2 linked regions of the Homo sapiens genome follow. The protein of the gene in region 1 interacts with the protein of each later gene in a pairwise test. Each region holds a gene or a part of one and is shown on either strand. Other genes may lie near its edges.

Region 1 (3,804 bases):
AGACAATCTATTTAGAGCACCCAACAGGCCAATACATGGTAGGAGCTCAATAAGTAATAGCTTTCAGTATTTTAACAAATCATTCAAGATTCAGATCACATGCCATCTCTTCTTGGAAGCCTTTCCTTCCCCCTTCTAACTCCCACCTGGATGAGCTGCCCTGCCTGCACAGCTGCAGCATTATATGCTCACTTCTCTCATAGCAGAGAGGTCCCCAACCCCTGGGCCAGGGACCGGTACCAGTCCATGGCCTGTTAGGAGGCGGGCCCCCCAGCAGGAGGTGAGTGGTGGGCAAGGGAGCATTACTCTTTGAGCTCCACCTCCTGTCAGATCAGCCACGGCATTAGATTCTCATAGGAGCGTGAACCTTATTGTGAACTGCACATGTGAGGGATCTAGGTTGTGTGCTCCTTATAGGAATCTAACTGGTACCTGATGATCTGAGGTGGAACAGTTTCATCCCGAAACCATCCCCCAACCCCCCGGTCCGTGGAAAAAATTGTTTTCCATGAAACTAGTCCCTGGTGCCAAAAAGGTTGGGGACCACTATATAGCACATATCACAGTGGTTATAATTAATTCAATAGTGTTTTTGAGTTTCTACCAGATACTAAGTATTGCATATACAGTGATGACAGGAGAAAAAGACTTTGTGATCCCTTTGAGAGCTGGACCCTGTCTTGCCTTTATATCTCTAGCATGGTGCCTGAAATACAGTAATTGATTAATATAGACTGACTCATTCAGTGAACAAAAGAGTGGACCTACTTTTGTTGTATCTATAGTTTTCATATTCTTTGGGCTTGCATGGCTTTTTGGTTGGACTATTATGTGAATCTCAAGAGGTTCAGCATGTCAGTGTTAGCTACTCTTAATGTACACACACCATGCCAGCCTTCCCTAGGTGTAGTGGTTGTATCAGGAGGTGAGATCATTCTACTCCTTTCTTTCAGATTCTACGACAAGGTACTTTCTTTGCATGAGGATTCAACAACCCCTGTGGCTAACCCTCTGCTTGCATTTACTCTCATCAAACGCCTGCAGTCTGACTGGAGGAATGTGGTACATAGTCTGGAGGCCAGTGAGAACATCCGAGGTAATGAGGAGGAGGGCTGGAGGGTAAGAGAGAAGATTCTATCTCCTGACTCGGTGGTAAGGAGAGAGATTCTGTTGGGATGTGATTTCAAAGGGTAATGGAGTAGGTGGGTATTACTTAATATCCTTAGCTCTAGCTAGCACAAAGAATTAGGCCCGCTTGCTAATCAGTTTATATGATTATACCTTAGAAAGCACTTTCATATCAATTGTCTCATTTGATGTTCACTACAATCCTGTGACAAAGTACAAGCCTTCCATTTATATATGTATAGAAAATAACGGTCTTCTAGTAGTTTCTGTTTCATTAAATTGTCACTACAGTGTCATCTATAGCAAGATCACTTTCCTAATTTATTCTACTTTGTGCTGTAAGAAGTTTGTTGACGGCCAGGCGCGGTGGCTCACACCTGTATTGCAGCACTTTGGGAGGCTGAGGTGGGCTGATCACTTGAGGTCAGGAGTTCCAGACCAGCCTAACCAACATAGTGAAACCCTGTCGCTATCAAAAATACAAAAATTACCGGGGAGTCGTGGGATTACATGCCTGTAATCCCAGCTACTCGGGAGCTGAGGCAGGAGAATTGCTTGAATCCGGGAGGCAGAGGTTGCAGTGAGCCAAGATCGCACCACTGCACTCCAGCCTGGGGTGACAGAGCGAGACTTTGTCTCAAAAAAAAAAAAAGTGTTGACTTTTGGGCTGGGCACAGTGGTTCATGCCTGTAATCCCAGCACTTTGGGAGGCTAAGATTGCTTGAGCTCAGGAGTTCGAGACTAGCCTGGGCAATATAGCGAAACCTATTAAAAATAACAAAAATTAGCCAGGCATGGTGGCGCATGCCTGTAGACTTGGGAAGCTGAGGCACAAGAATTGCTTGAACCCAGAAGGTGGAGGTTGCAGTGAGCTGAGATTGCGCCACTGCTCTCTAGCCTGGGCGACTGAGCAAGACCCTGTCTCAAAAAAAAAAAAAAAAAAAAGAAGTTTGTTGATTTTTGGAAAGCTAACAGTGAGAAGAGTCTGGGTGTGGTTGCTCATGCCAATAATCTCAACACTTTGGGAGCTTGAGTTGGAAGGATCACTTGAGGCCAGAAGTTTGAGACCAGCCTGGGCAACATAGCAAGACCCTGTCTCTACAAAAAAATTTATTTAAATTAGATGGATGTGATGGCGTGTGCCTGAAGTCCTGCCTACTCAGAAGGCTGAGGTGAGAGGCTCACTTGAGCCCAGGAATTCAAGATTATAGTGAGCTATGATCATGCCAGTGTGCTCCAGCCTAGGCAACAGAACAAGATCCTATCTCTATTAAAAGAAAGAAAGAAAAGAAAGAAAAGAGGAGAGAAGAGAAAAAAAGAAAAGAAAAGAAAAAGAAAAAAAGAAAAAGAAAAAGAAGAGTTGTCTCCCTAAAGAGTGAGACTCCTGTAAACATACAGGATAGGACAATATAATGAAGCTGTATGCCTTAATTTTTATTCCTCATTCACTCATTCTGAATGTTCCTCATTCAGAATTGCATTAAGCATCCACCCTGTGCCAGGAACTGTGCTTGCCTCTGGGAACACAAAGACAAATCCAACTTGATGTCATTAAATATTTGAACAGGTGGTCATGCCTTACATGTATTAAATGCCCAACTCCTGTTTCTTGAATGCTGGGTTGATGTTTTTACTACTTTTACAGCTCTGAAGGATGGCTATGAGAAGGTGGAGCAAGACCTTCCAGCCTTTGAGGACCTTGAGGGAGCAGCAAGGGCCCTGATGCGGCTGCAGGACGTGTACATGCTCAATGTGAAAGGCCTGGCCCGAGGTGTCTTTCAGAGAGTCACTGGCTCTGCCATCACTGACCTGTACAGCCCCAAACGGCTCTTTTCTCTCACAGGGGATGACTGCTTCCAAGTTGGCAAGGTAACAATATTCAAGAGAGGGCCAATTGCTTGGCTCTGGTTTCTTATGGATAAAATAACTATGTACCGATTGATTTTACTTCTTTTTAATACTTACAGTAAACTTGGAAATTTGATATCATTTCCATTTTCAGAGAAAGAAAACAAGATTCAGAGAGGGTAAATAACTTGCCCTAAGATTATGCAATTTTAAGGGCAGAACTAAAGCTTGAACCCAGTCTTTTGACTCCAAATCTCAGGCCCTTTCCATAGTAGTTAAGGTGTTTATATACTTAGAACACTCTTGAGATTGAAAGGGGTGTTATTAATTATGCTAGAACAACAGACATGAACTAGGAAAAATGGTCCTTTGTTCACCCTAACTATAGCACCCTGCCAGTGCATGAACTCCTGGGTAGAAAGGGAAAGCAGGGGGTCAGGGACGCAAGGTTGGGGAAAAGGATAAGAGATGGTGATGGAAAGGTAAGATCACGGAAACAGCCTCCTGAGACTTTCTGGAATCCAATGCAACATTTCCTAAGCATTTGGAAGTACAAAATTAAAGTAGTGTCCAAAATCTAAGGCCATTCACTTTAACATTACTTGAGGAAATAGACTTCAGGAACACCCCCGCCCCCCATCTGAGGTATTTAACTGATCTTTGATTATAAGTTGTAATCACACGTGAGATCATTTTGTAATATACTCTTTGCCAGCCTTTGCTATAAAAAGCAATGGAGCAAATCCATTTTAACTTTGAAGATGTTTATTGCAGTAAGGTGTATTTTTCCTGACTCCTACAGTATTCATCAACAGATCTGGGAGTGGG
Region 2 (4,517 bases), on another chromosome or scaffold:
GATCACTTGAGGTTGGAAGTTCAAGATCAGCCTGGCCAACATGGTGAAACCCCATCTGTACTAAAAATACAAAATTAGCCAGGTGTGGTGGTGCACACCTGTAATCCCACCTACTAGGGAGTCTGAGGCAGGGGAATTGCTTGAACCCAAGAAGTGGAGGATGCAGTGAGCCGAGACTGCGCCACTGCACTCCTCAGCCCGGGCGACAGGGTGAGACTCCATTTCAAAAAACAAACAAGAACAAAAAAAGAAAGGGATGGAGAGGAGGAAGGGTTCCGAGGCGGCCACCTGGAAGGAGCAGGAGCCTCTGGTGAGGGTGGGAGGCACCCTTGTCAGGGCCAGCAGGATGCTAGGGGGTGGTCCCCAGATGGGCCCTGGGGACGTCGGGTGGGGCATCCCTCTCCCAGACAGGGAAGCTGGAGGAAGGGCCTCATGTGTGAAGACCCTGAGGCTTGCTGGAGGGCGGAGGGGCCCTGGGAGAGGTGGGTGTGGGCTCCAGGTCCCCTCCCTGCAGCCTCCCCTCCCACCAGCCCCTCTGAGACTGAAACAGAGATAAAAATGTCCTTTTGGGGGTGCCACCCTGGAGGCCAACGCATTGGGCAGGGGAAGCGGCTCCGTTCCCTTCCCGGTGAGGCCAGAGACCAGGGTTCACAGGGCTGACTAGTAGGGACTGGCATGTGGGTGCGGGTCCTGCTGCCCCGCTCTCCTCCCAGGGGTCACCAGCCGGCCCCTCCCCCAGCATCCCTGGGGACCCTCCGCTCCTGGGCACCTAATTGGGAGCTGGGAACCCGGTGTGTAACAAGCAGCTACTCTGCTCAGTGGGCGGATGTCCGAGGAAGAGACAAAGCTCAGAGACCGCCCACAAGTTTAGGGTTTCTTGCTGCTGGTCCTTGGAGGGGCAGACGCGCAGGGCAGGGTGTGCAGTGGCGGCAGGGTATGGCGGGGGCCCTGGGCGCAGCCAGGACCGCGGGACCCGCGCGCGAGGCAGGGACGGGGGCGGGGGCGGCGGATCGCGACCCCCTGGCCCTGCCCCGACCACAGGCCGGATGGCAGGCGAGGGTTCCCAGGGCAGCGCCCGGGGGTCCCGGCGCCCACCGAGGCCTGGGCAGGTGGAGGCGCCAGGTGAGGCGAGCGGGCGCTGGGCGGGAGGCGGAGAGCAGGGAGGAGTCCGGCCGGGCAGGGCCCGGGGTTGCCGCTCACGCGCGCCCGCCGGCCCCGCACAGACGCAGGAGGCGCAGGTGCTGAAGCAGCTGGCGGAGCGGCGCGAGCACGAGCGCGAGGTGCTGCACAAGGCGCTGGAGGAGAATAACAACTTCAGCCGCCAGGCGGAGGAGAAGCTCAACTACAAGATGGAGCTCAGCAAGGAGATCCGCGAGGCACACCTGGCCGCACTGCGCGAGCGGCTGCGCGAGAAGGTGCGGGGGCGGGGCCGGGGCGGAGCTCGGAGCGGGCAGGGGCCGGGGCGGGGCCGGGGCGAAGCTCGGAGCGGGCAGGGGCCGGGGCGGGGGCAGGGCTAGCAGCAGTCAGGGGGCGGGGCACTGGGCGGGGGCGGGGCCAGGGCGGAGCTCGGAGCGGGCAGGGGCCGGGGCGGGGCCGGGGCGGAGCTCGGAGCGGGCAGGGGCCGGGGCGGGGGCAGGGCTAGCAGCAGGCAGGGGGCGGGGCACTGGGCGGGGGCGGGGCTAGGGCGGAGCTCGGAGGGGCGCAGAGCGGGGCCGGGGACTCCGAGGCGCTGAGCTGGGGTGGGGGTCGGGGGCTCCTCCCGTGTTTACTGGGCGTCCCCAGCAGCGCACGAGGCAGGTCCAGAGTCTGGTCCTGGCGGGACAGTAACTAGCCGCAGTAATAGATGGCTAAATTCATTATATTGAAAGTGCCCTGAAGGAAGCTCGGCTCCGGTACGAGCTAGAAGCGGGGCCCAGCCAGCTCCCAGGAAACCCGTCCTTGGTCCCTGGCCTTGCTCTGCGCCTCCCCGGTGCTCCCGCCCCCTCAACTCAGTCAGGGTCCTGCCGAAGGCCAGCCCGGATGAGGCCGGGCGGGTGCCAGGGCGCCACGGCCTGCGCGCCTGGGGGTTCCCGGAGTCGCCCCAAGCCACCCCCGCCCTCAGGCCCTCCCGCCCCCTGTCCTGCAGGAGCTGCACGCGGCCGAGGTGCGCAGGAACAAGGAGCAGCGAGAAGAGATGTCGGGCTAAGGGCCCGGGACGGGCGGCGCCCATCCTGCGACAGAACACGTTCGGGTTTTGGTTTTGTTTCGTTCACCTCTGTCTAGATGCAACTTTTGTTCCTCCTCCCCCACCCCCGCCCCCAGCTTCATGCTTCTCTTCCGCACTCAGCCGCCCTGCCCTGTCCTCGTGGTGAGTCGCTGACCACGGCTTCCCCTGCAGGAGCCGCCGGGCGTGAGACGCGGTCCCTCGGTGCAGACACCAGGCCGGGCGCGGCTGGGTCCCCCGGGGGCCCTGTGAGAGAGGTGGCGGTGACCGTGGTAAACCCAGGGCGGTGGCGTGGGATCACGGGTCCTTACGCTGGGCTGTCTGGTCAGCACGTGCAGGTCAGGGCAGGTCCTCTGAGCCGGCGCCCCTGGCCAGCAGGCGAGGCTACAGTACCTGCTGTCTTTCCAGGGGGAAGGGGCTCCCCATGAGGGAGGGGCGACGGGGGAGGGGGGTGATGGTGCCTGGGAGCCTGCGTGTGCAGCCGGTGCTTGTTGAACTGGCAGGCGGGTGGGTGGGGGCTGCAGCTTTCCTTAATGTGGTTGCACAGGGGTCCTCTGAGACCACCTGGCGTGAGGTGGACACCCTGGGCCTTCCTGGAAGCCTGCAGTTGGGGGCCTGCCCTGAGTCTGCTGGGGAGTGGGCATTCTCTGCCAGGGACCCATGAGCAGGCTGCATGGTCTAGAGGTTGTGGGCAGCATGGACAGTCCCCCACTCAGAAGTGCAAGAGTTCCAAAGAGCCTCTGGCCCAGGCCCCTCCCCACCAGGGCTTTGCAGATGTCCTTGAAAGACCCACCCTAGAGCCCTTTGGAGTGCTGGCCCCTCCTGTGCCCTCTGCCCTGGTGGAAGCGGCAGCCACAAGTCCTCCTCAGGGAGCCCCAAGGGGGATTTTGTGGGACCGCTGCCCACAGATCCAGGTGTTGGAAGGGCAGCGGGTAAGGTTCCCAAGCCAGCCCCAACACCCTTCCCACTTGGCACCCAGAGGGGGCTGTGGGTGGAGGCCTGACTCCAGGCCTCTCCTGCCCACACCCTCTGGGCTGAGTTCCTTCTTTCCCTTGGACGCCCAGTGCTGGCCTTGGAGGACGGTCAGCTGGAGGATGGCGGTGGGGGAGGCTGTCTTTGTACCACTGCAGCATCCCCCACTTCTCCACGGAAGCCCCATCCCAAAGCTGCTGCCTGGCCCCTTGCTGTAAAGTGTGAAGGGGGCGGCTGAGTTCTCTTAGGACCCAGAGCCAGGGCCCTCAACTTCCATCCTGCGGGAGGCCTTGGCCGGGCACTGCCAGTGTCTTCCAGAGTCACACCCAGGGACCACGGGAGGATCCTGACCCCTGCAGGGCTCAGGGGTCAGCAGGGACCCACTGCCCCATCTCCCTCTCCCCACCAAGACAGCCCCAGAAGGAGCAGCCAGCTGGGATGGGAACCCAAGGCTGTCCACATCTGGCTTTTGTGGGACTCAGAAAGGGAAGCAGAACTGAGGGCTGGGATATTCCTCATGGTGGCAGCGCTCATAGCGAAAGCCTACTGTAATATGCACCCATCTCATCCACGTAGTAAAGTGAACTTAAAAATTCAATCAAATGAACAATTAAATAAACACCTGTGTGTTTAAGACATGGTTGAACTGTCTGTGTGTGTCCTGCACCTGTGGGGTCGGGGGCAGCTGCGGGCTCCCTGTCTGGGAGTGAAGATCTGCTCTGTGTGTATCTCCAGACTGAAGCTGGTTATAAATCTTATTTTATCATCATGATTATGAATTGTTCTATTGACAACAGTGATTTTAAGATATGAGCATGTAAACTACACACAAGCCCACTTTCCTCTCTGGAATCCAAGGGGTGAGGTGTCAGGGTGGGGGGTGGCAGGGCCCGCTGCTGTGGGTGGGGCTGGCGGGGGCTCCCCTGCCCTCCCTCAGGGCGGAGCCCTCCTCAGGGGCTTCCTGTTGTTCAGGACTCTGTGGCCCGCCGCTCAGGAGGAAAGGGCAGGGCCTACATATGTATGCATCTGAGGCTGGAGCCTCTAGGCTGTGGGACTTCCTGACATGGGGGCAGGTGCTACGAGACCCCTGGGGCTGCACCCCACTGTTCTGTGGACTCACCCCACTCACCCCATTCACCCCTGGGCAGCCGGTTGTTCACGGTCACAGGTCTGGACCCAGGATGGGGGACAGAGTAATAAAAAGTAAGAAGACGTTCTGGGCTGGGCGTGGTGGCTCAGGCCTGTAATCCCAGCACTTTGGGAGGCCGAGGGAGGTGGATCACCTGAGGTCAGGAGTTCAAGACCAGCCTGACCAACATGGTGAAACCCTGTCTCTACTAAA

The links.
Region 2: the proteins of P4HA3 (region 1) and STMN3 interact in binary tests that used the Homo sapiens proteins (3 or more experiments, as listed by UniProt).

What each region holds. Positions count from the first base shown.
Region 1 is NC_000011.10:74,301,562-74,305,365, reverse strand, and holds part of P4HA3 (prolyl 4-hydroxylase subunit alpha-3 isoform 1 precursor), read left to right. Parts: intron 1-953; coding exon 954-1,096; intron 1,097-2,773; coding exon 2,774-2,997; intron 2,998-3,804. UniProt on the Homo sapiens protein: Catalyzes the post-translational formation of 4-hydroxyproline in -Xaa-Pro-Gly- sequences in collagens and other proteins.
Region 2 is NC_000020.11:63,639,006-63,643,522, reverse strand, and holds the end of STMN3 (stathmin-3), read left to right. Parts: intron 1-1,223; coding exon 1,224-1,415; intron 1,416-2,125; coding exon 2,126-2,185; 3' UTR 2,186-3,811; downstream 3,812-4,517. UniProt on the Homo sapiens protein: Exhibits microtubule-destabilizing activity, which is antagonized by STAT3.